3 separate regions of the Homo sapiens genome follow, and regions 1 and 3 are each linked to region 2. Evidence: fine-mapped expression QTL. A gene starts in region 2. Each other region holds a variant in brackets. All regions are shown on one strand. Distances are from middle to middle. Region 1 overlaps SSBP2 (single stranded DNA binding protein 2). Region 2 holds the start of SSBP2 (single stranded DNA binding protein 2). Region 3 overlaps SSBP2 (single stranded DNA binding protein 2).

Evidence for each region. PIP is the estimated chance that this variant, and not a neighbour inherited with it, causes the effect.
Region 1: its variant is fine-mapped to the expression of SSBP2 in whole blood (TOPMed, PIP 0.97).
Region 3: its variant is fine-mapped to the expression of SSBP2 in tibial artery (GTEx, PIP 0.95).

Annotation. Positions count from the first base shown.
Region 1 is chr5:81,457,119-81,465,118 of GRCh38, forward strand. SSBP2 (single stranded DNA binding protein 2) reads right to left here. Exons shown (of 17, transcript NM_001256732.3): 10 at 3,937-3,985. Among named protein-coding and RNA genes, the nearest start is that of ACOT12, 67 kb to the left of the region's middle. The variant A/C (reference allele first, on the strand shown) is at 4,751.
Region 2 is chr5:81,746,372-81,754,661 of GRCh38, forward strand. It overlaps SSBP2 (single stranded DNA binding protein 2), which reads right to left and starts at 4,726. Exons shown (of 17, transcript NM_001256732.3): 1 at 4,610-4,726. The coding sequence starts at 4,671. RefSeq lists silencers at 3,588-3,747, 3,968-4,017, 4,458-4,507, 4,678-5,007, 5,278-5,627.
Region 3 is chr5:81,425,758-81,433,757 of GRCh38, forward strand. SSBP2 (single stranded DNA binding protein 2) reads right to left here. Exons shown (of 17, transcript NM_001256732.3): 16 at 2,828-2,926. Among named protein-coding and RNA genes, the nearest start is that of ACOT12, 36 kb to the left of the region's middle. RefSeq lists an enhancer at 7,287-7,972. The variant T/C (reference allele first, on the strand shown) is at 4,064.

The sequences.
Region 1 (8,000 bases), 290 kb before region 2:
GCTCCTTAAAGAAGTGGCTGTTTCCAGGGCTAAAACTGGGAAAATATAAGAAGAGCTTCAATGTGCTCAGAGAAAAATGGGGACATGTTAAAAGGTTAAGTGATCCCACTTAAAGGGGAAAACTTTGAACAATTTTAGCATCCTAAACCCACAGAATAAAATAATTCATGAATACATCGTATATACATAAATGAATATGAATGGAAAAGAAAAAACAACTCTGTTATAGTTAGCTAACTAATAAACGGAGAAGAAAAGACAGAATTCAAAAATATCCATTTGGCAACCAACAAAGTAAAAAAGTGTTTCAGGCAAGAATCATCAATAGATGTCCAAAATAGCAGATGAAAGTATAAGGAGGAAGAGGATACCTACTGTACATTCAAAGTAAGTCTCTAAGTTAATAAGTACAAGGGGAAAAATAGTTATTTTATACTGGAGAAACCTGACAAGCACCACCTTAACTAAATGATCAAAATTAACATCAACAATAATGGGACAAATCATCATGTGCCTCCTGAAATGATGCATTGAGAAAAACACAAAATTTTTTTTTTTTTGAGACCGAGTTTTACTCTTGTTGCCCAGGCTGGAGTGCAATGGCGCGATCTCGGCTCACTGCAACCTCCACCTCCTGGGTTCAAGTGATTCTCCTGCCCAGCTTCCTGAGTAGCTGGAATTATAGGCGCCTGCTACCACACCCGGCTAATTTTTCGTATTTTTAGTAGAGATGGGGTTTCACCATGTTGGCCAGGCTGGTCTTGAACTTCTGACCTCACGTGATCCACCTGCCTCGGCCTCCCAAAGTACAGGGATTACAGGTGTGAGCCACTGCACCCGGCCAAAAACCACAAAATTACTTCTGTAGTATCCCTGACAAATATATATAACCTAAATCTAATCAGAAGGAAATAGATAAAACCAAATTATATACATTCTAAATAATCTTGCTTGGAGTTTTTTAACTCCAAGGTTAAGAAAGGCCAAAACAAACAAACAACCTCCCGCTCCAAACAAAAACAAGCTGAGAAACTGTTCCAAGTTAAAGGAGACAAAGAGACACGAAGTGAATGTAACAAGTAAATTGGGATTTTCTTTTGTTTGAAAAGATTATTGAGCCAATTAGTGAAATCTGAATAAAATCTGTAGATTAGAAAATAGCATTACATCAGAATTGATTTCCTTATTTTGATCATTTTACTGGGGTTATAAAAAAATTATGTGTTAGTTTTTTAGGAAATATACATGCAAGTATTTAGGGATAAAGTTTCAGGAAATTTAAACAGTTTAAAAATACGTTTATGTAGAGAGAGGAAATAATAAAGCAAATGTGGTAAGACATTAACAATTGGGAATCTGGGTGAAGGGTGTATGGAAATTCTTTGTAGTATTCTTGCAATGTTTAACTCTGAAGTTATTCCAAAATAAACACTTGAAAGAAAAAATAGTAAACAAAACATATTTGAAAACAGCAAAAACAAAACAAACAACTACTTCAATATGCTGCCTTGAGGAGTCAGAGACTAACTGTATTGGTACGAACTGAAAAGTGTTTTAATATTAAATATGGGCAGGAAGTCTAAGAAACTTGGAATTCAACATAATTTGGATAAGTTGTCACCACAAAATGATCCATGGTTTTTGGGGAAAAATACCTCCTTAATACTTTTTGCTTCTGTTTCATAGAAGCCCTAGGTCTTTGCTAGAAAGTCGTCAGTTATCTATGATTTTTTTCCCCTTGTTCTTAGAGTGGTCATTTTCAGAGGCCTACTTTTCCTTTGGATGCTCAGGATGATGACTACTTTCTCTCTCTAAAGAGAGAATGATAGGCCTCCTCCACTTCTTTTCCCTATTCTCATACTTTGAGTAAGGGTAGATGTTTGCACATTTGGTATACATTCATCGAGGAGACTGCTTTCAACTCCATTACTTGCCTACATGTGTGCTAGTCAAATGCCCATTTCAGACTGGTGGACAGCAGTTTGATGTGTACAGCTTTTACCCTAATTCCTTATGTTTCTCAGGGTCTAAAATAATGCATAACTGCTAGTGTGTTATAGCGTATTCTCCTACCCACAGTGCCCAGCGCTATGAAATCCTAAAGAGATGGAGTACCTAAAAAACTAAAAGTCATCAGAACACAGAGCTCCCCTCTCATCTATACTGTTTACTTGGATAATATACCCCCTTGGTACAATGAAACATCCTTGTCAATATCAACCGCTCAAACCCTGTCCACCTTCCTAGGTGCCTTGTGGGAGATATAATCTTTGAATGAGTGTGTAAAAGAAGGTACTTATAAAGGTGGGTAGTGGTGGGTGTGAATTGTACTCTGGCTGCCTACAATGGCAGTAAAGGGATGACTGGCTGAGCTGACAATGAGGAATAAGAGAATGGTTTTTGTGCTTCTAGGTGGGAAGGTTTCCATAGTTAAGGTGAGCCATTGGTTGTGCTTTTCCATCTAGCTTCATGAGACATGCAGATAATGGAAATTCTTTCCAGATTCTGGCACTGGGAAGAGTTTTGTTACAAAAAATGTTTTCTTGCATTCTTTTTATGGGCATTTAAATAGGAAGTTAAAATAAATGTATCTTGACCTGCTAGACAGGTGTGATTTTAAAGTGAAATCTTGAATGAATTGGTTAGGTCAAATAGTAAGAAGCTAATAGATCATAAGAAGTAAACTCTTGTAAAGCATGTAAGCAAATGAAAATAATTTTGAGGGTGTAAAGGTACTCTATTCCAACACAATCTGGCAAAACACTATTTTAGGAGAAAGACTTGTTGAAATTAAATAACACACTGAAGACTCAAATGGAAGCAACATCATTCTTTTCACTTCAAATAATTTCAATTACTTAGCAAACATCGTAGCTATTAAAATTAAGAGAAAAGCAGATAACATGAATTAACATTTTAAAAAATATATGACAGTTATTTACTTGAGCTGAAAGTGATTCCTGCTTCAAAACAGCAATGGATTTAGGATGATTCTTCCTATACCCTAACCTTAAACACTGGATCGGTTTCATATTCATTTAACATTAAGGCCACTGCTAGCCAATGAAGATACCTTTGTACATATTAGCAAAAAGCATCCTCTTTGCGTAGATGCCCATTGACTTCACAAGGGGATCACAGGTTGTATTTCATTCTCCTACTGACTCTCTTGACCCGGGAACCTTTGTGCAGTGCACACAGTACACAGATGTACATGGCAGACTTCTCTCACATATCGAAGAACTCAAGGTTTCAAAGACAAGAAGGAAAAACATCTCCAGGATCACAACATTAAAATCATATTAAGATCGATAGCTTAATTTTCAACCTGTGCACATATTTCTGTGACATTATTAAGAGAGATAAATATTAGTGCCATCAAACCACGGCCACAAATATATAAGGAAAATTCCCAAGATGTCAGGTATATAGAGAGATGTACAAGGATGGCAATTTAGCTAACAGGTACAAGGTAAATATGCATTTGCTTTCTGGGGCAGCAAGAAAGCAAACCTAGATGTAATTGATATAGCAAATAAAATCATAATAATTTGGCTTCTTCTAACAGGTTGATTGTATTTGGCAACTCAGTGATTATTAATAGTTATTTTAGAAGATCAAACCATTTTATGATACAGATCACTATTTATAGGCTATTGTAGTATATACTTAAGTCACACTATTTCAATTTTTATTTTTGAAAGTCTTGTTGACAATAGAATGCATGTTTACATTAGACCTTGAAGTGAAAGAAAATTACATAATTTCAAAAAATTATGCATCTTTTTCTAAAATTTATATTAAACTTTTTGAATGATTACTTAAAAAAGGGTTACTACAACCAATTGCAAAGCTTTCAAAAGCAAAATGTTTTTGTGATTTTTGTTAAATGTTACAAAATGCAAAATATTAAAAAAAATATATATATATACTCACTGAATTGGCATTTGTTGGGTTTGGCCAAGGTCTACCACCACCTGGACCCCTACAAAACAATTTGATAAATGAAATTTTAACCTATGCTTTGAAGGTTTCACAATAATCAATGACAAATCATAAAATATAACATTTATAATTCAGTTACTATGCAGTTCTAGTTTGGCACTGAAATTACTCTCTTTATATTTATTTTAATAGCTTTTTATATTAATTAAGTCCCCCAAAAGAAAAGTTTTCTTCCCAAATTGAACTGCTTTTAGAAAGCCCAGTTTTATTTTAATATTAAATGGTTATTGTTATAAAGATGGTAACTGCTCATAGGAGTAAATATATACATACATTGAAATCATTATAAAACACACTTCTGTAGTGAAAAGTATTATGAACTAAATATAAACCATAACCTTGTGATATCAATATGAGCTTCCTGTATCTCATTCAAAATAAAATTTGTAAAACATCAATATATGTAAAATGATTGATCTTAAGCTATAAGCAAATAAAAATATATAAAAGGTATCTAAAGTTGCCTTTTAAAAAAAAACCACAGAGTATCACACATTACTTTTATATTTATTAATCTATCTTTCAATGCTACTGATGATTTAGTTACTATTAAATGAGAAATCCCATTTCTTGTTCTCATAATTTCAGTCCAGATAGTGGCCAGAGCAAATCTTAGAAAAAATGGGAGATAATCTATGCCAATATATTACTTCATTTTAGAGTAAAGGAGAATGTTCTGTATTCCACAGCTTCTAAGGACACTGAGTTTTTAAAGTAAAATTAATGCCCAATTAATTAAATCAAA[A/C]AGGTCTCTTGTCCTCATACTTTAGTACTAAATTGTGTACCTGAATAAAGACTGTCTTATGAAAAGCAGACTACTGTCAGTCGGTCTCCTCTAATTAGGGTCATTTAAAATTCCCCTTCATTTGAATCACTAAGACAATGAAAATTTTTAATTAAAAAAAATCCCTTGATTCTAAGACCTTAAACCTAAAATTCTAAATCAGGAGTGTCCAATCTTTTGGCTTCCTTGGGCCACACTGGAAGAAGAACTGTCTTGGGCTACACATAAAATACACTAACACTAACGATAGCTGATGAGCTAATAAAAAAAAAAGAATTACAAATAAAATCTCATAATGTTTTAAGAAAGTTTACAAATTTGTGTTGGGTCACATTCAAAGCCGTCCTGGGCCACATTTGGCCCACAGGCCACAGGTTGGACAAGCTAGTTCTAAATGTTAGATAAAGAGGCTGAGCAAGTTAGTTATGATATTACCCATGTTTGCATGGAATATTTAGAACAGTTTTTAGTTTTGTTTTGAGATTCCCTAGAGGTGTGAGCAGCAGGGAAGGGAATGAGTCCTGTCCCTGGGCTCTATTAGGAATGCCCAAGTGGAATTTTTTCCCAATTCAGCTTGAGGTATAGAAGATACCAGTGGGGACTTGATAAAATTTTGTGCATAGGGAGAAAGAAGGTGAGAGGCATTTGTATTGATTGTCTTTGGAAATTGTTGCCTCTCCAAGATGATGATGGAGATGATGATTTTACAATTAATTACTGGAACACTTCAGAAAAATGATTTTACCTATAGGATTCAGTGTCCTAATGGACAGAATCTAAGGTAAAACATAAGATATGTGTTGACCAAGTAAAACATTTGGGTAGTAAGGTACATCCACATGATTTGTTTGATGTTAAATAAAACACAGTAAAAAAACTTGGGAACATTTATCTTAAAATGACATAAAAGTACACCATATGCAGATCCTGGCAAAATTTATATATAATAATGTTATGTAGATAATCTTATAATTTTGAAATATCATAACCAAACAAGTACTGTATGAATAAGATGCATAAATAGAATAAACTATTTTTATTTTCAAATTTTTCTAATGTTAAACATGCTAACCTAAATGTTAAAATAATTAAATATTTAATTTAATTTAATTGCATTAAATTAAATGTTACATTTATGTCATAACATTATATATTTCAATTTGATAAATACCAATCTAGTTCCAACATACTAAGTGTTTCATAATAAATTTCATTTTACTATTAAGTATTAATAATTCATATGGATAAGTTAAATTTCTCCTAACATTACCATTGTGTTTGAAAATACTTTAAGTTTCACAAGTATTTTATAAAAAGTGAGGGTTATAGTAGGGAGTAGTTCTATTAGAACAACTAGTTAAGCTCAGTAATTCCCACTCCTTTTGAGGGCCCTCAGTATTATTAAGAAAGTAATTTACAAATTATAACATAGGAATTATTTTGAATGAAAATTTCTATATAAGTATGGTTTGAAGTAGAATCAGGTTAGCCTCATTTAAAAATGAAGAGAGGCTGGACATGATAGTTTATGCCTGTAATCCCAAAGCTTTGCGAGGCCGAGGCGGGGGGACCACTTGAGCTCAGGAGTTGAAGGCCATTCTGAGCAACATGTCGAAACCCCATCTACACAAAAAATACAAAAATTAGCCGGGCGTGGTGGCGCATGCCTGTGGTCCCAGCCACTTAGGAGGCTGAGGCAGGAGAATTGCTTGAACCGGAGAGGCAGAAGTTGCAGTGAGCCGAGATCATGCTACAGCACTCCAACCTGGGTGCAGAAGTCTGCATTTTTTGGTAAGGAGGTTGATTTTGATGAAATCAAATCAACCACTATTACCAAAGAGAAAAATCCTCTTTTTTTTTTTTTTTTTTTTTTTGGTTTGGGACACAGTCTTGCCCTGTCACCTAGGTTGGAGTGCAGTGACAGGATCCCAGCTCACTACAACCTCCACCTCCCGGGCTCAAGCCATTCTCGTGCCTCAGTCTCTCAAGAAGCTGGGATTACAGACACCTGTCAACATGCCCAGCTCATTTTTGTATTTTTAGTTTAGATGGGGTCTCCCTATGTTGCCCAGGCTGGTCTCAAACTCCTGACCTCAAGTGATCCGCCTGCCTTGACCTCCCAAAGTGCTGGGATTACAGGCATGAGCCACCATGCTTGGCCTGAAAAATCCTCTTTCTTCTGTAATTCACTATCATTTTATTTCAAAATAATAACTACACAAACTTCATAATTCTGCAGGATATAATACAGAATAAGAAGATCCTCTGAAATCCTTTTGGCCTCGTAGTATTGCTTAATAGTAATGTATACAAAGTTGAGTTAGGGGTGCTTTAATACTAAATCCTAAATTCTTTGGAAACTTATAAAAATGTATTTAATTTAGAAATACATGATTATTCAAATTTCCTTTAAACAGTAATCTACAATGCATTAGAAAATTATATTTTGGCCATAACTTATAAATGCTACTTTAAATTACTTAAATTTAGTTTTGGCTTCTAAGATACAATACTGGTTACAGAAACATAGAAAGTAAGTTTTTCAGTGACACAATATAATTTATCCTAAGTTTAGAGCATGAAAACAAAGTTTTTTAAACAATAAGGTTACCAAATTTACTTCCGAATGATTTATTCTGCAATAAAGAAATACAGTTGTCAGTTAGAATATAGTCTTTAATTACTTTAGTGACCAGGGTTGGGAATTTTTTATTGTCATCATACTCTCATGGCAAATAAGAAAAAATGACAAGCTAAAGAAAAATTATCCAGATATGAGTCTCTGGCATGCTCCTCCTAACACATAAATATTTTTGTTACTTAAATAGTTTAGTTAGTTCAAGACAGAGCGTAAGGTAACACCTTTCTAATGCCTTTTTCTTCCATTTTTAAGGAATATGCAAAATTCCTTAATGACATGAAGCTACAAATACGTTAGGAATACTGTGTGTATGCATTACAGTTAGACTTTGTTTTAAAGATAATACATTATAAAGTGAATTTCAATAAAGCTTACCCTATTGAGTGCAATGGAGATAATATGTTTCACTTTTTATGTCTCTAAACAAACCTTTGCTTTTTTGGGGCCAATATCAATATAATAGTTACACTCTTATAGAGCATTCATACCTGAGAAGTTTCCCTATTAGAGGAAAATATTTACAAGTGTAAAAATGTAAATATTTACATTTCATTGTCCTTGAAGGAATCC
Region 2 (8,290 bases):
TAAGATACTCCTTCATTAGTTTTGGAAATCCTGAATTGTGCGAATTGCTGTCAAGTAAGTTTCTGAAGAGATCTCTATTACTTTTCTTGCCTTATTCCTTCAGAAAGAAAGAAAGGTTTGTCATTTTTCTTTGCAGGGGGTACCTTAATGATGGGGGAATGCTTTAATTACTTTAATGGTAGAAGGGGAGAACAAGGTGATGCTGGCAGATATTAATCCCTTTTATATGAAGTGGCATTTAAATGTTCATTATACTGTAACTACTTTGAAATAAGCATATGGTATTTGCTTCTTGGTATATTCAACTAACATTGAAAATTTAAAAGCCAAAGTTACTTTTCAGAGCTCAAGATTAGACAGTTTGATTCTTGTAGTTTCTGGCTAGTTTACTAAATAAAAGTCGGTATATATTATGTGTATCTTTTATGTTCAACTTTGCTTTCTAGCAGATTCATCTTTCTGTGCTTTACATAAAAGATCAAATTAGTTTAATAAAAAATTAATATCACTACTCATCTATTTGCAGGTGCCAGTTACTCTTTCTGCGGTAGTGTGGCATACTGTGTGGCTTTAAGTTCAGCAACATTTCATATAGGAATTGTTCACAACTATTATGTTTAACTTTAAAACAAGCAATCAAACAAAATTCCTGGGGGGGGGGGGAATCTGAAGAAACAAGTTTTCGTCATTATGTTAGGCTTCCAACTTTCCTAAAATTTCTGTGCCTTCTCCCACACCATACACAGATCTGCAAAGCATCAGGGTGCACCAGTGGTTAAGACTGCATATTTGATCAAATCTTTAAAGTCTGTCACATCTGATTATGTAATGCTGTTCCCTAAATCTGTAGCATCCTACCCTAGTTCAGGAAGACAATCTGGTACACTGAAAAATGTATCTTTCAGCTTCAATCACAGGTTCTAAAGTTAGAGAAATCTGTGTTAGAAACCCAGCTTTCCTGTTTTCTAGCATTGTATCCCTCGGTGAGTTCTTTAACCATTCAGGGTCTTAGTTTTCATATTTCTTTAATGGAGGAAAAAAAAAGCAACTGTCTTGTAGATTTGTTGGGAGAATTAAGAAAAAAATATACATAAAACACTGAACATAGTGACTGGCACACAGGATGGCAAATAAATAATAGTTATTTTTGTTGTATTGTTGTTTAGGGGTATTTCTGAAATACAACTAAGCTAGAGAATGTGAAACTCAAACTTACAAGTCCTTATTTTGGAGGTCACTGAAAAAAAATTTTTTTACATTGAAAAAATTCCTTTGAGTCTAACATCTTCAATAACAATAATTTATTGATGCTTTTGGTATTAGAAGGCACCTTAATGTTCAAGATACCTCAGAGAAGAAATTAGATTATCTCCTACCCTCAACAAACTTATATTTTAGGGAAAGTTAAACATTAAACAGCCAATCACGGTTATTTAATCACAATTGCGATTAGTGTTATAAAGAAAGCCTGCTAAAGGAAGAAATGACCTAACAAGATCAGAATTAAAATTTCTAAATCCCACCTCCCTCCAAGGGTTTTCAATCACTCCCTCTATAATTAAGACTTGATCTGCTTTTCTTAAAATGACAGAGTAAGTAACTAATCTTACCCTGATCATTTTTATCAGAACTGTATACTGAAATTACAGGAATTGTGTAAAACCAATAATTCACTTCAAATATTTCATATAGTGACTTCCTAATGAAAGACAAAACAAAGATCTAATACAGGTAAGCACTTGTCAACTATTCACCATGAACTCATGTTAGAAAACACATTTCTTGATTATAAAACCAATGTGCTTATTTCCTAAGCATGCTATTATTTATAATAATGACTCCTTTTGCAGAATGTTTTTGTTAAAATGAGTATTTGTTACAGAAACAAATTATTTCTGTGATTTTTAAGATAAGAACAGTTCTAATTTGCTTACTAAAGGAGAATTCTTCACCTTTTATAATCTGTTACCTTAAAAATTAAGAACAAAAATCTGGTGACATCCATTTTAATGATGACTTCAAGATTCCTACCTTCAGATGTTAGTACATTGTTGCAGAATAGTGCCATTAAAGTCCCAAGTAAACATAAAGAGAAAAACCGAGAGATTAGATCAACTCTCCCACCAAGATGAAATTAAGTTTATTCTATAAGACAGAACCTACGTCGATGTTTGTCTTAGATTCAAACAACATTAACCTAGAAATTAATGCAACGACAATTAACCCAGAACAGTCATTGTCAATTCTCCAAAAGCGGCCTCTTCACCTATATTTAAGTTCATAAGGCAAACCAGTCAAGAATTCCTGCTGCCAATTGAAATGAATGGAAGAAATATATTTAAATCAAATAGCACCATCTAGCAGAACCCTGATCTGCTCACGAGAGTAGATATTACTTGGTGTTCAGTTTGGTAGATTTGACAGCAAAGTGGCAATTATTTGTTTTCCTGGTGGGAAATCACAGAATTAGAGCTAGAAAGGACCACAGTTATGCAAGTTCCAACATCCTTGTTATTATCTGAGAAACTAAAAAAAAAAATCAAGCAGTCCTCAGGATACTGAGTGGGATTCAACTAAAGTTCACCCCTTCCTGGAAGTTCACCTAAAATCTAAAATTACTTTGATTCTCAAATTCAGTCACCCCCAAAATAAGATCATGCCTCAATACATTTCAATCACTCTGACTAATGTGAAATTCAAATATTCTGTGATCATTAAAACATCCTCCTTCAGATGTTTTTATCAGGCACATTATAACAAAATGATTAATGCACACAAATGAGACTGCATTTCAAAACTTCAATTCTAGTAACTGCCGTTTCTTAACCAGGCTATAACGCTATGTCTTTTATATACTACTTGTCACAGCAACAAGATCCTGAATGCAGCTCAGAAAATATCTCTTGCAAAAAAACAAAAAAGCCTCTCTAATTTTTGTTTTGTTTTGTTTTGCTTTGCTACATCAAGGCCTGATACCTCTAAATCCTATGGGAATTGAGTGTGTTGCTGCCAACACAAAGATTAGGAAATGTTCCCATCCCTAGGGCACACAAAACTTTCAGGGGGAGACTAACTGCCTAAACCAAGGAGGGAAACTCAGTCGCCTGCGCATTCGGTTTTTATTTACGCAGCTATTTCTGTGCGCAAGGTAACCAAAGTACCTTTGAGAGATGCTCTCAGACTTTTTCTCTGGTCTGAACCCCCTCAGAAAGACAGGGTGCGTTCAACGACAAGGATAACTCTGACCCTCAGAGTTTAAGTGGTTACTGGGAATCACTGATCTGTTGCACAGTTTAAAAAAAAAAGGGGGGGGTTCTTCCTCAGTGATCACAGTCACTATTCGTTCTCATTTTTAGTAACAACCAAATCACCGTTACAAGTACACAAGAATAGCAGCAAACCGCTTTGCTTTGCAGTGTGCCGTGACAGTGGCATCCCGGGCCGGGAGGGGCTCTGTTCTCGCCAGCCGCCTCTTGGGCTCCCACCGAAGTTAACACCTGTATCTCCCCACAACTGTAACCAAGCGGCTCCTTCCCACCTGAACGCTTCTCCCCTCCCACAAACCCCTTTTCGGACCACTGGCCCTCCCCGCCACAGCTGCCCTCCTCGGGCGCCCCCGGCGGCTCCCACAACTCCCCTCCGCGCGCCCCCGACCACCGCCCCGCCGGGCCCGCCCCTCCCGCCGCTCGGGGGCTGCCAGCCTCACAAAAAGTTCGCCAGCCGCCGCCGCGGAGTTGGGTCCGCTGCGAGAGGCAGAAACGCCAGCCTCCTCCAGCGGATCCCGCTCCTCGCCAACACACTTTAGCTCCCCGGGAACTCGGTCCCTCTCCGACTCCCAAACTTCGGCGGCGTCTCCGGCGCCCACCCGCCCCCGCCCCCGCCCCAGCCCCAGCCCCAGCCCCGCGATGCGCGGGGGACTGCGGGCGCCGCGTCCGTAGCTGGCCCAGGAAAGCCCGGACGCCCAACCCGCACACGCCCTCCGCGCCCCGCGCGCGTCTCCGCGCCCCGCGGGGCCCCGCTCGGCCGCTCCACGCCCGGCTTCCGCCCGCCGCGCGCCCGGCACCGCCGCCCTCGCCTCGCCTCGCCCCGCGCTCGCGGCCCTAAGCCCCAGCGCCCAGGCCCCCGCCGCCGCGCTCCCCGCGCTGCCCGCCCCGACCCCGGCCCCGACCCCGGCCGGCCCGCCAAACACCCACATTCCCACTGCGCGCCTTCCTCCACGCAGCTGCCCCTCCCGCCACCCCCGGCGGCTCCCCAGGTCCCCGGAGCCCCGGACCCCAGCTCTAAAGTTACTTTGGAAGGTGAACCCGCGGGTTATTTCCCTCAATCACCCAAACAAGTTTCCATCCTCGCCACCAGCACCACCGCCGCCCCTCAACACACCCGGTCCCTCCCGCCGACAGCCCCCTGCGGCCGCCCGCCCAGCGCCCGCACCTCCCGGGAAAGCGCAGCTCCCCGCACCACACGCCCCCATCGCGGCACCCCTCCCCCTGCCAGCCCACCCCCGGCGCTCCCCGGGCGGAGAGTGTCTGTGTCTCCCAGAGTGTGCGAGTGCGTGCGTGAGTGTGCGCGCGTGTGAAGGCGGAGGTGGGTGAGAAGCGGAGACACTTACTTCTCCCGGGCCTGGCTGTCGGACGGGACGGCGCTGCTGTTACTCTTGCCTTTGCCGTACATGCTTGTGCCGAGAGCAGCTCCCACTGTCACGCACCTGTCAACCCATCACAGCCTCCCCGGGAACAGCCCCGTCCCCATGGCGACCCACGCAGCCACCCCCACTATTGGCCGCCCCACGCCAAAGCTCCGCCCCCTTCGCCCAGGCAACGCGCGAGACTGACAGGCCTCCCCCTCCCTCTGGCCTTCCGAAGCGCGCGGTGGCGGCTAAGCCTCAGCGGCAGTCTCCTCCCTCCTTCCCTCCCTCCCCGACTCCCTCCCTCCCGCCTTCCCTCTCCGCTCTCCTCCCTCCACCCGCTCTCCTTCCCCCTCCCCCCTCCGAACCCGGGCGCAAGGGGGGAATTAGAAACTGCTCTAGAAGGATTTTAAACAACTGGCTGTTCTCTCCGCCGCCACCCCTCCCCCCGCGCCGCCCGCGCTCAGCTCCTCACTGGAGAGAAGGCGCCGGGAGGAGGAGAAACTGCGGCCTGGAGTCTCCGGCCGGAGCCGGCGGAGCTGGAGCCGTGGCGGCCCCAGACTTCGGGGCGCCCGCCGAGTCCACGACAGAGCCACGGCCTCAGCCGCCCTGGGGCCCCCACCAGCCCCTCTCCCGCTCCTCTCCTATGCGTGACCCCGCGCCGGTACCCACGATTGATTTTTGCGGTCCTCAGCCCTACTCCCTGGGGTGTCGCCCCCGCCCTGTTCCCAGAGGGCCGGCTGGCGAGGGACACCCGCGCGGTTCCCTCGACCTTCTGGCTGAGCGACCGACAGCGACTCGCCTTCTCTCCTGGGGAAAGGCTGCACCTCCGGCCCTCGGCGCCGCTGCGGTGGCGGCGCCCGGGGCCGCGCCCTGCGCCCCAGGGGAGCACCCGGCCTGGGGTCGGCCTCCTCTGTAAGAGGTGAGCGGACCTCCCGAGGAGGCCCGGTGACTCCTGCGGCCGCAGCGGCCCCTGCCCCAACCCCTTCTTGCACGGAGCCCCGCGGCGCCCTGGACACCCCGCCAGATCTGCCGCAGAAGAGGGCCCCAGGCTTCCCCACCCGGCCTGGTTTAACAGTTTGGGTCAGTGATGCCTATTCATCCTGACCCCTGGAGTGGAAAAGGCCAGAAAAGGTCTTGAAAGACTTCCCTGTCCTTGCCCGTTAGAATAGGCCCCAGCGCGCTCCAAGGTGTACAAAGCTGTGCCAGGGCTGAAAGGCTGCCCGAGAATGTTTCTGTATCCAAATCCCTAATCCCATTTCAGTAAACGCGCAAAAGTTTCAGAAACACACACAATCTGGTTCCCAGTAGAACTCTGCATCATTTATCTTATTGAAGTCCTTGACTGTAAAATCAGACGGGTGCAAATGGGGTTAGAAAGAAGATGGGCTTCACACGGGGAAGAAGGGGACAGATGGGGTGGGACAGGGCGACATCTGGAAAGGATGAATAGACAAGAAGTAGCTATGGGAGGAGAGGGAAATCGGATTCGCGTGGAGGAAGGTACCGTTCTATTCCACACACACACAGCTTTAAGCATTTAGTAGGAGGATCATAAAATGCATATGGAGATATACAGATAGATGGAAAGGAAAGAAATGGGTGTGAGCATTGACAGAAGTGATAGGAATAAAACATCAACAGATGATTAAGGAAGGGCAGTTAGCAAAAGTGAGAGGTCGAGAATCAAAAACGCGGTTGGCAACCAGACATAAAGACGGGAAAATGAAGAGGAAGGACTTTCTATACTGGTGTTAATGACAAGGAAAAAAACATGAGGAAAGTGAGGTATAAAAAGATGAGAAGACTAGAAGATACAGGATTAAATGAAGAAGCCATAGAGTGTGATAGCAAAAGATTAAAAGTAATAGAGGACAGACATTATCGTTAAAAAAAAGATATAAGAAAAAAAGCACTTTTATTAAAAGGACAAAAATTAAGCCAATAAAGGAAATGAGGGGGGAAAAGTGGGGGAAAAAAATACACTGGCTTAAGTAGATTAATTTCCAAGAGATGTAATTTGCCATTTCTGACTTAAGAATTCTTCTGTCAGTTTCTAATGACCTACAGTTATTGGGTGGTTAGGATATGGCATTCATATTCTTCTTTTTGTTTCTAATGACCTGCAATGATTGGGTGATTGAAGCGAAGCTGAGCCAGTCAGCCTCTCTTAATGAACTTTTGCTCAAAATGCTCAAATGTGTATAAGGTTGCCACAGTTTACAGACTCAACTTCAAGGTTAGCATTATGTAATTTTTTTGTTCAATTATCTACTTCCATTGGCCTTAACCCAGAAAATTTTTAGTATATCAAGGCTCCATCTCTTATAGAATACTCCCTATAAAGGTGCTGCTCAGAGAATGCTGTCAGTTCTCAGAGAGCTCTGGCAGCTTCTCAGACACCCTCCTGCCTGCCCCTGGAAAAACGAACCAAGGGTGGGCTTTGTCCTACTATCCAAAAACAAAGTAGGTATTATCCTTGCACTGGTGTTGGGACTCTCTTAACTATGGTTCTCAATCATGGCACGTTAGAATTGCCTTTATTTTCATTGTTGTTGGGTTTTGTTTGTTTGTTTATATACTAACTGGATCAGAAACCTTGGGGATGGACCCAGGTACCTGCATTTTTTTCATAAGCTCCACGTGGTTCTTGTGTATAACCAGGGCTGCCTGCCTTTGCTCTTCAGTATCCATTTAAAGACAGCCAATGGGTACCATAAGAGATTAGTACAAGACTTTTAGGTTGGGCTGTCCATTAACAAATGACCCTACTCAAAGCATTAAGATGTCTTTACAGTGTACTTTACTTTCTGCCACCAAGCCAACAAACTTGTTAATAGGACAAAAATGTATGCCCATATGTGTTCTCATAGTACAAGATCATGAATAGCCATGGTTTAATTTGCTATTTCCTATAGAGAAAGGAAAATGAAGAAAGAGAACAGGAGAAACTGTTTGCTGTCTACTGCTATAATTTATTCATTTGATTGGTTTTTACCCAGATTTGTTACATTTGGAAGTCCTATGGGTAATGGCATATTTTCTGATGTTTAAAAAATAAATAAATTATAGATCTGCACAGTGGGGTATGGAATTTAGAACAATTTGGTCTTAGTCTTTGGAAAGAATAAAATGCTAAAAGGTCTTAGTTCAGAACTTGCGAAGTTAATGTCAGAGTTACCTTTATAAGAATGTTCTCATCTGACAAATATACAAAGTGAAAACATGACTTTTATATGTATATGTATCCTGTATATAGTAACCTTAAAGCTTAAGTAATCAAATCAATTATCATTAAAACAGCTCAGCAGCTACCTGAACCATCTCTGTTTTATTTTCCTCTAAATGTTTTCACATGTAAATAAAATGCTTCTTTGCCCTTGTTCAAATTATGTTGAGTACAAAGAGTGTTCTTTGCATCAGCAACTGTATCTCCTGGGACCAATATTGTAATTAATGAGATTTGAAACACATATTCAGAGCCAAATTTGAGATCCCAGACACAAAAATGAAGATCCATTGTTTTGTTTTCATTTTTTAAAAAGGGAAAAGATTGGAGATTTAAAGCTTCCTAGTGTAGAGAATCACAATGTATTTTTAGAGTTTTTTTTTTAACCCACATATGAGATTGATGAATTTGGGGAGCCTGGATTTGGCATAGGGGAA
Region 3 (8,000 bases), 320 kb before region 2:
GATTCGCATTTTGTTTTGTCAAGCATGTTGGCACCGCAAGGTTTATGACTTTGGGCTGGGCATTTTTGTTTCTATATTAATTGAATGAAGCAGCATGTGTGAGTGTGAAGAGACTAGGATAGTATCTAGTACATAAAGAGTACTCAATAGATACTTGCTCCCTTCCCAGGCCTCCTTCTGTGATTTAACTTCAAGATAAAACCTGACAGATCCTTAAAAGGCAGACTGCTCAAAAATATGTGCTTTCAGAGTTATGTGTATTAAACACTAGAACTTGCATGTTCATTTATTGAACAATGTTTTCTTTTTGAATTCATTAAGAGTTCTGCTTTTCCTTGATTATAGCAAAGCTAACTTATTGGGGATAACTAGCTTATTTACTTCTTCAAAGCCTTACATTTGTCAGCACCAAATCTCTTTTGTCTTTCTTCCTCTCTCCTCTTATTGCTTGATTTTATAAAAAGATCTAAACAAAAATGTATAGTAATATGACAAAGAAAGCCACACATAACAATGATATCATTCATAACAAGTCCCTTCTTCTCAGGAGACAGAAGAATGGAGAAGCCAGTGTGTACCTGCTTCCAAGGCTGTACTACCCTCCAGGGTGGTGGTGCAGTTTCTCAGTCCACCATCAAATTATTTTTCCTTTTACAACATTTCTGGTGGGGACAGGAGACAAGGAGGGAAGAGAAAGCAGGGAACTTCTGTTTGCTGTTAACTCTGCTGGCAGTCTAGCATTGAACCCGCTTAAGTTCAGGGGCAGGGAGGGTGAGCCAGAAGTTAGGGGTGGAAGAAGCCTTGTTCCAGCTGCTCTCGTTTCTAAATGCACATATTCACAGAAGAATCTGTTGTTTGCCATGTGCATAGTCCATTAGGGATTGAAGGGAGAAGCTGGGGCTTATTCTGTGCAAGGAAGTTCTCCACATCCTGGCATATCTGAATCTTTGCCCCAGTGAAGAGCTTTCTGATGCCAGTTCTGAATTGGTACCCCTCTTCCAACTGTTAAGACAGCAGTCACTAATGACAAATCTGGGAAGGAAGTAGAGGGAAGAGTTCCTCTTGTCACTGCCCATAAGTGAAAGTCATGTGGAAGCTTTTTAAAAAAGTTTTTTTCCAACTCCAAATTAATCATTTCCTCTGACTTTTAAAATACATGGCTTATATATACATTACAGCACTCATTAATCTGACACGTTTTAGTTATATCAACATCTGTTTTTCCTATTGGGTTGCACTCTTTGAAAGTAGGTGTTATATTTATTTCAGAATACCTTGGTCTTAACCTGATGCTTTGCATATAATAGGCTCAATAAATGTTAAACTGAATTGAATTATCAAATACCTCACTGAATTATACCACTTTATTGCTGGTAAAATTACTCGAAAAGGAAATAAATGTCTTTAATTAGATAAAAGTGAACATAGAAAAATTAATTTGTCCATAGTTTTGAAGCAAACCACTCAAAGAACCAGGATCTAAAAAATAATTCCCATAATCTTAAGCATTATGACTTAAATTATGTAGCTTCTCATGTTTTTCCTTAACACTGACAGGCTAAATTTTTTTTTCAACTGTAAACTGTTACACATAAAAAATTATTTGTCCTCACTAATCATATATTGCCTGCAAGTAAACTACAGATCAGCATAATTTTAACAGAAACGAACTCTAAAAACAGGGGATGTCTTGTCCCCTGCAAAGGTCCCATGTGGATATCAGAACTACAAGAATCCACAGAGCACTCAATCTTGTATTCTGTTTTGGGAATGGAACAGCCACTCTGTATAAAGGTAGACGTGCTATTAGCCAGTGCTTCAAATTCTGATGGTATCACCTCTGGTAAATGCTGAGTTGGGCAAAATGAGGGTAGTCTCTCTCATGATTCTGACTGCAGTTTGGTAGGTCCTCCGTAAGAAATTTTAAGGATGCTATGAATCCTGTGAAGATGAAATTCATTTGGGTTTTGAAATCTTTTATGCTACATTCCAGTTCAGTGGTTCTTAGCAGAGAATGTACACCAGCATCAGCAACAAAGCTTTTCCACATTCAAGTATGCCCAGCTCCACTCCTGGAAATTCTGATTCACTAAGTCTAGGGAGAGTTCTGGGAAACTGTATTTTAAAAAATTCCATTGGGGTTTCTAATGTGAAATATTAATGTAAAAAATCATTATATTACATAGAACTCCTTGAGAAAAGGCACCATTTTGTCTTTTTGGTCTCTCCAATACCTAGCATATTGCCTTGGCATGTGGTAAGTGCTCAGTAATTGCTTGTTAAATGAATGAATTTTATTGCTTCTCTTTTTGGTTCTGTCTACTTCTATGGAGATATGGAATGAACTTTTGTGTAACAGTACAATCACACGCAAGCAGTGACTTGGGTATTCAGCTCAGGTTAACAGACCGCCAATTTGGCCTTCAGTCCAGTGAGGTCTACTATATAAAGTAAGAACAGACTTTTTAGATTTTGAGGACAGCACTGAAACACACCTAGTTTTGCAGCAACCTGAGACATTTTAGTAGCATGAAAACTTATAAAAAGTATCAAATAGGCAACCTGTTTCCAGTTTGTTCCTTTACAGTGGAGGTTCTCAATGAGAAAACTATTATTATGGTTTTTCTAACTATGTACACAGAATAAAAAAGAAAAAGTTTGTTTTAAAAATTATTTTCAAAGATATTCCACTTAAAGTTTCTCTTATCTAAAAGATAAACCTGTTGAACTCTAGATAAACAGCAGTAAAAGTGGCTTTATGCATTTATTCTAGCAGAAGAGCTTCAGAAATAAAATTTGAGTATAATATAGTCAAGGGAATACTTACACTCTCACTCTGAAAAGGATTTAAGAAATTTCCCCCCATTTCGCCATCATCCCTTGGAGTGCCCGGTTGATTACTCAGGCTCATATTATTGGGAGAATTCTGTAAACAAGATTTAGAAAACAAGGCATTGTTGAAAATTTTAATTTCCCTCTTGCACTGTACTGTTTCGAATATTGAAACAGCATCCCTAAGGACAAAGCATACTTCTAATTTTAATCTTAGACTTCTACCATGTATTCTATTTCATTCTTTGCACTTTGACAAGTACTAATGCCTTCCCAAATGAAAATTTAAAAAAAAATAAAAAAACCCCCAATAACCTACCACAACTATTTTCTTAGCTTCAGAATCAATATTTATTCAATTTCCCACCCTCAGCTTATAGAGTTCCTAAAACACTGGAGAGTTTAAAACATTCCCAGCAGGGGCATGATGAAGAGATCCTACCCACTGATAAGGCAAGATGGAACAATAACTCCCTTAGTCATTTCACTAACCAAACTTTGAAAGGTCACTGTTTTAATAAACATTTCCTTTTAATTCTACATGCAGTATACAGATAACACTATTTCAACCATTTTTACATGAACTTTAAGGAAAAAAGAAAGATAGCTAACAACTGTACTTAAGAACAAGAGACACCTTAGGACTTGAGAATTTATTATGTACTCTTAGAGGAAAAGGAGGCTCAAAAGAAAACTGCTTTAGAATATTTTCCTATCATTAGTTTAAGAGTAGATTTACTTTGGAACTTTCCTTGGAAGATAAAATGACTGTTATTAGCAATCTAATCGAACACCAAGTTAGCAGTGCGTTGCTTCATATTCTATTTAAATTTGCTAGTCTCATTATTACCGCACAATTTTAGCCATGGCAGGATACCTGATACTCCACATCAATAGGAAATGTAGAATGACATTGGACTATAAACCATGTTTATACAGTAGTATAACTGTAATTCTTTGAAGGTCCAATTCATTAACTTGTAAAAAAAAACTTCAGAGTTAAACATTTTTTAGTTGTTATTTCAAATGGAAGAAATAACTTACTTACTTACTGGCTTACTTTTTCCTAAGCCATTCCTATTTACATTGTTTTGGAATTAGTTTTTAGATTTTTTTTTAAAGAAAATTGCTCAGAGAATTTTGTCTTAACTACAACAACTTGTATCATAAAAATTAACATTTCATGAATGAGTTATTCCCAGAAGAAAATGGTTAAAATGTAAAGCAGAGA[T/C]AGATAGATGAGCTGGTAGAAATACACTGTGTCTTGTCTTGCTGTGCACCCCGCAGGGAGGATCTGAGAACAAGGATCCTCTGAAGTCCATTGGAGCTCTCTGTGTCAAGAAACCCCAAGGACTTGGGAAATATACTTTAATAGCATAAAGAGGATTCTATTTTTTTTGACAAATTTTTCTCTGAAAAATGTTAGTTATCCAAGTATATAGAAAAGCAACTATACTTTGAAATGAATCTGAATATCTTGATTTCCTGGGAAAAAAATTAAGTAAAATTTAACTAACTGCATTATTTTAGAATTCATTAATTATTAAAGTTATTAGGTTAAATAAACTGTACCTTGAAAACAGGAATGATAATGCTGACTTAGCTCAAAAAGGAAAATGAATTTATAAAAAATATTGTAAGATTTACTTATAATTTATAAATTCTTTTGGATTTCTGTCACTTTATATATAATGGAGAAATTGGTAATACTAGAATAAAATACAATCTAATATATACACACATATATAAGAAAATTCAAGGATGCAGTTGGAAGCTGCATATTTCACACAGTCAAACAAAAGAGTAAAATGAACCCTCTTATTCTTGTGTAACATTCATACCCCCTGTGGTATATAAGGTACCATGAGAGAAGCAGCGTATCTCAGACTCAGTTAGGGTGCTTTAAATCTTTGCTGCACATTTGCCATATATCATTTCTTGATTTATAATTCTGAAAGTCTGGCTAACTTCAAACCTGATTCCTAACTCAAAATATTGATTTTTAAATACTTACAATTTGAAAGTAACATTGCATTGCTAATGTTTAAATACACACAAAATACTTCCAGTGTTATTATTTCTGTTTTACATGCAACCTCTTCATAGCATGGTGGCTCAGCATTATACTCTTCTGTGTGTGTGTGTATGTGTGGTGGGGACGGGTATTTAAGGACACTAACAGGAAGATTGAAAGGATACATTCAACATACAAAACTGAGATAAAATCAGATCTCTGAAACCTATTCCTATTCAGCCTACTGGACCGTATTTGAAAAGCCTGAAGTGATAGGACAATTGGGTTTTTTTGGTTTGTTTTTAACTAGAGTAATCTCTGCAAAATTGGAAAACAACAGAAGCTCCTCAATGGGAAATCTTAAGAAAATTGTGCTGTCCGTAATCGCTGAGTGACATGATGATATGGGCTAAAGGGCATATTCAATATTGGCATCTGAGGGACAGCTAAGATAGCGGTACCAAAAACCATCCCAGAACAGGTAATGAGGGTAGGTGGTAATGAATTGTGTGTATGCTTCATTTAACTGTAGCTGTATTTGTGTATTATGTCCAGTAGGTTTCATCAATAAGGCAAGAATATGATGTATAAAAAGGACTTAGGTTGGTCAAAAAGGCACTCTACTTGCTTCAGCACAAAAGAGTACAAGATTACTTTTAGATACATTAGGCCCATCGGTTACAGTTATTTCAATGAATATGTACTTTATTCCCTACTTTAAGAGTTTTGCTTGAAAAAATATGGTTAGGATTATACTGATACCAACTTCAAGAAATTTTATTACATTCTCACTTATCATTTCTTCAAGTTGGAAATTCTCTTAAGCTATGATGTCACACATGAATATTTATATACATATATATATACACACACACATATATGCACACACACATAATACACCACAAACACAATTTCCTCTGGCTGCCATGTTTAACCCTGTTGGACTTCCTGGTCTGATTTCTTCTAGCAGGTATTACATATCTTCTTCTCTCTTTTTTTTTTTGAGACATGGTATCTGTCACCTAGGCTGGAATACAGTGGTGAGATCACAGCTCATTGCAGCCTTGGACTCTTGGGCTCAAGTGATGCTTCTGCCAAAGCCTCCTGGGTAGCTAGGACTACAGATGTGTGCTACCACATCTGGCTAATTTTTAAAATGTTCTGCAGAGATGAGATCTCACTATGTTGCTCAGGCTGGTCATGAATTCCTGGACTCAAGCAATCCTCCTCACTTGGCCTCCCAAAGTGCTAGGATTACACGTGTGGACCACTGTGCCCAGCTCATATCTTCTCTTAATTAGTAAGTTATTATCCCTTCTCCCATCCTCAAAAATTGTTTCAAACCTTTTAAAACTTTTTAAAATTTTAAATTTTTCCATTTTCAAATTAAAAAAGTGAACATTTATAGAAACTGTGGCTCTGCCTGTAATTAGAATAAAATAATAATGACATTATTCTAAGTAGTGGATTTTGAATTGCTTTCTCACAGGCTGCCAATAGTGAGTTTTCTAGAGTGTTGTTTTGACTCTGCTAGCTCCCTCAAAGAACAAACTGTCAGTCATTCTCCCAGTGGGCACAAATGAGCTAGAACTCAGGTCAGCACACATGAGATGATGGTGTAGATCTCTAGTCATCTACCAGCTCCCTTGTGAATGGTGTAGGATCTCTAACTGGAGCCAAAATTCTTGGGGTCAGAATGCTTCAGGTTGAAAATACTTTCTTGGTAATTTATTAAACATGATATGATCAGAGCTTGTCTTCTCACATACATGTGTTTTTCAAACTCAGAAATATAAATGTGAGATATGTTAATACGAACTGCAGAATTTCCTTAGCTGCTTTTCTTCTAAGAAAACAAACCGGCCGGGCACGGTGGCTCATGCCTGTAATCCCAGCACTTTGGAAGGCACAGCCAGGCAGATCACGATGTCAGGAGTTTGAGACTAGCCTGGCCAGCCTGGTGAAACCCCTGTCTCTACTAAAAATACAAAAATTAGCCGGGTATGGTGGTGTGCGCCTGTAATCCCAGCTACTCGGGAGGCTGAGGCAGGAGAATTTCTTGAACCTGGGAGGTAGAGGTTGCAGCGAGCCAAGATTGTGCTACTGTACTCCAGCCTGGGCGACAGAGCGAGACTCTGAGTCCGGGAGGGAGGTGGGGGGGTCAGCCCCCGCCCGGCCAGCTGCCCCGTCCGGGAGGGAGGTGGGGGAGTCAGCCCCCCGCCCGGCCAGCCGCCCCGTCCGGGAGGTGAGGGGCGCCTCTGCCTGGCCACCCCTACTGGGAAGTGAGGAGCCCCTCTGCCCGGCCAGCCACCCCGTCCGGGAGGGAGGTGGGGGGGGTCAGCCCCCCGCCCAGCCAGCCGCCCCGTCCGGGAGGGAGGTGGGGGGGGTCAGACTCCCGCCCGGCCAGCCGCCCCTTCCGGGAGGTGAGGGGCGCCTCTGCCCGGCCGCCCCTACTGGGAAGTGAGGAGCCCCTCTGCCTGGCCACCACCCCGTCTGGGAGGTGTACCCAACAGCTCATTGAGAACGGGCCATGATGACAATGGCGGTTTTGTGGAATAGAAAAGGGGGAAAGGTGGGGAAAAGATTGAGAAATCGGATGGTTGCTGTGTCTGTGTGGAAAGAAGTAGACATGGGAGACTTTTCATTTTGTTCTATACTAAGAAAAATTCTTCTGCCTTGGGATCCTGTTGATCTATGACCTTACCCCCAACCCTGTGCTCTCTGAAACATGTGCGGTGTCCACTCAGGGTTAAATGGATTAAGGGCGGTGCAAGATGTGCTTTGTTAAACAGATGCTTGAAGGCAGCATGCTCGTTAAGAGTCATCACCACTCCTTAATCTCAAGTACCCAGGGACACAAACACTCTGCCTAGGAAAACCAGAGACCTTTGTTCACTTGTTTATCTGCTGACCTTCCCTCCTTCCCTCCACTATTGTCCTATGACCCTGCCAAATCCCCCTCCGCGAGAAACACCCAAGAATGATCAATAAAAAAAAAAAAAAAAAGAAAGAAAACAAACCATATACTTCTCTCTACCCTCAACCCCAACTCCAAGGAAAAGGATTTTTGTTTCATTGATTAAATGGGTGACCCCTCAGTTATTAAAGGGCTGAAAGGAATTTCATATATCATCTTTAAAAGCTTTCTAAATCA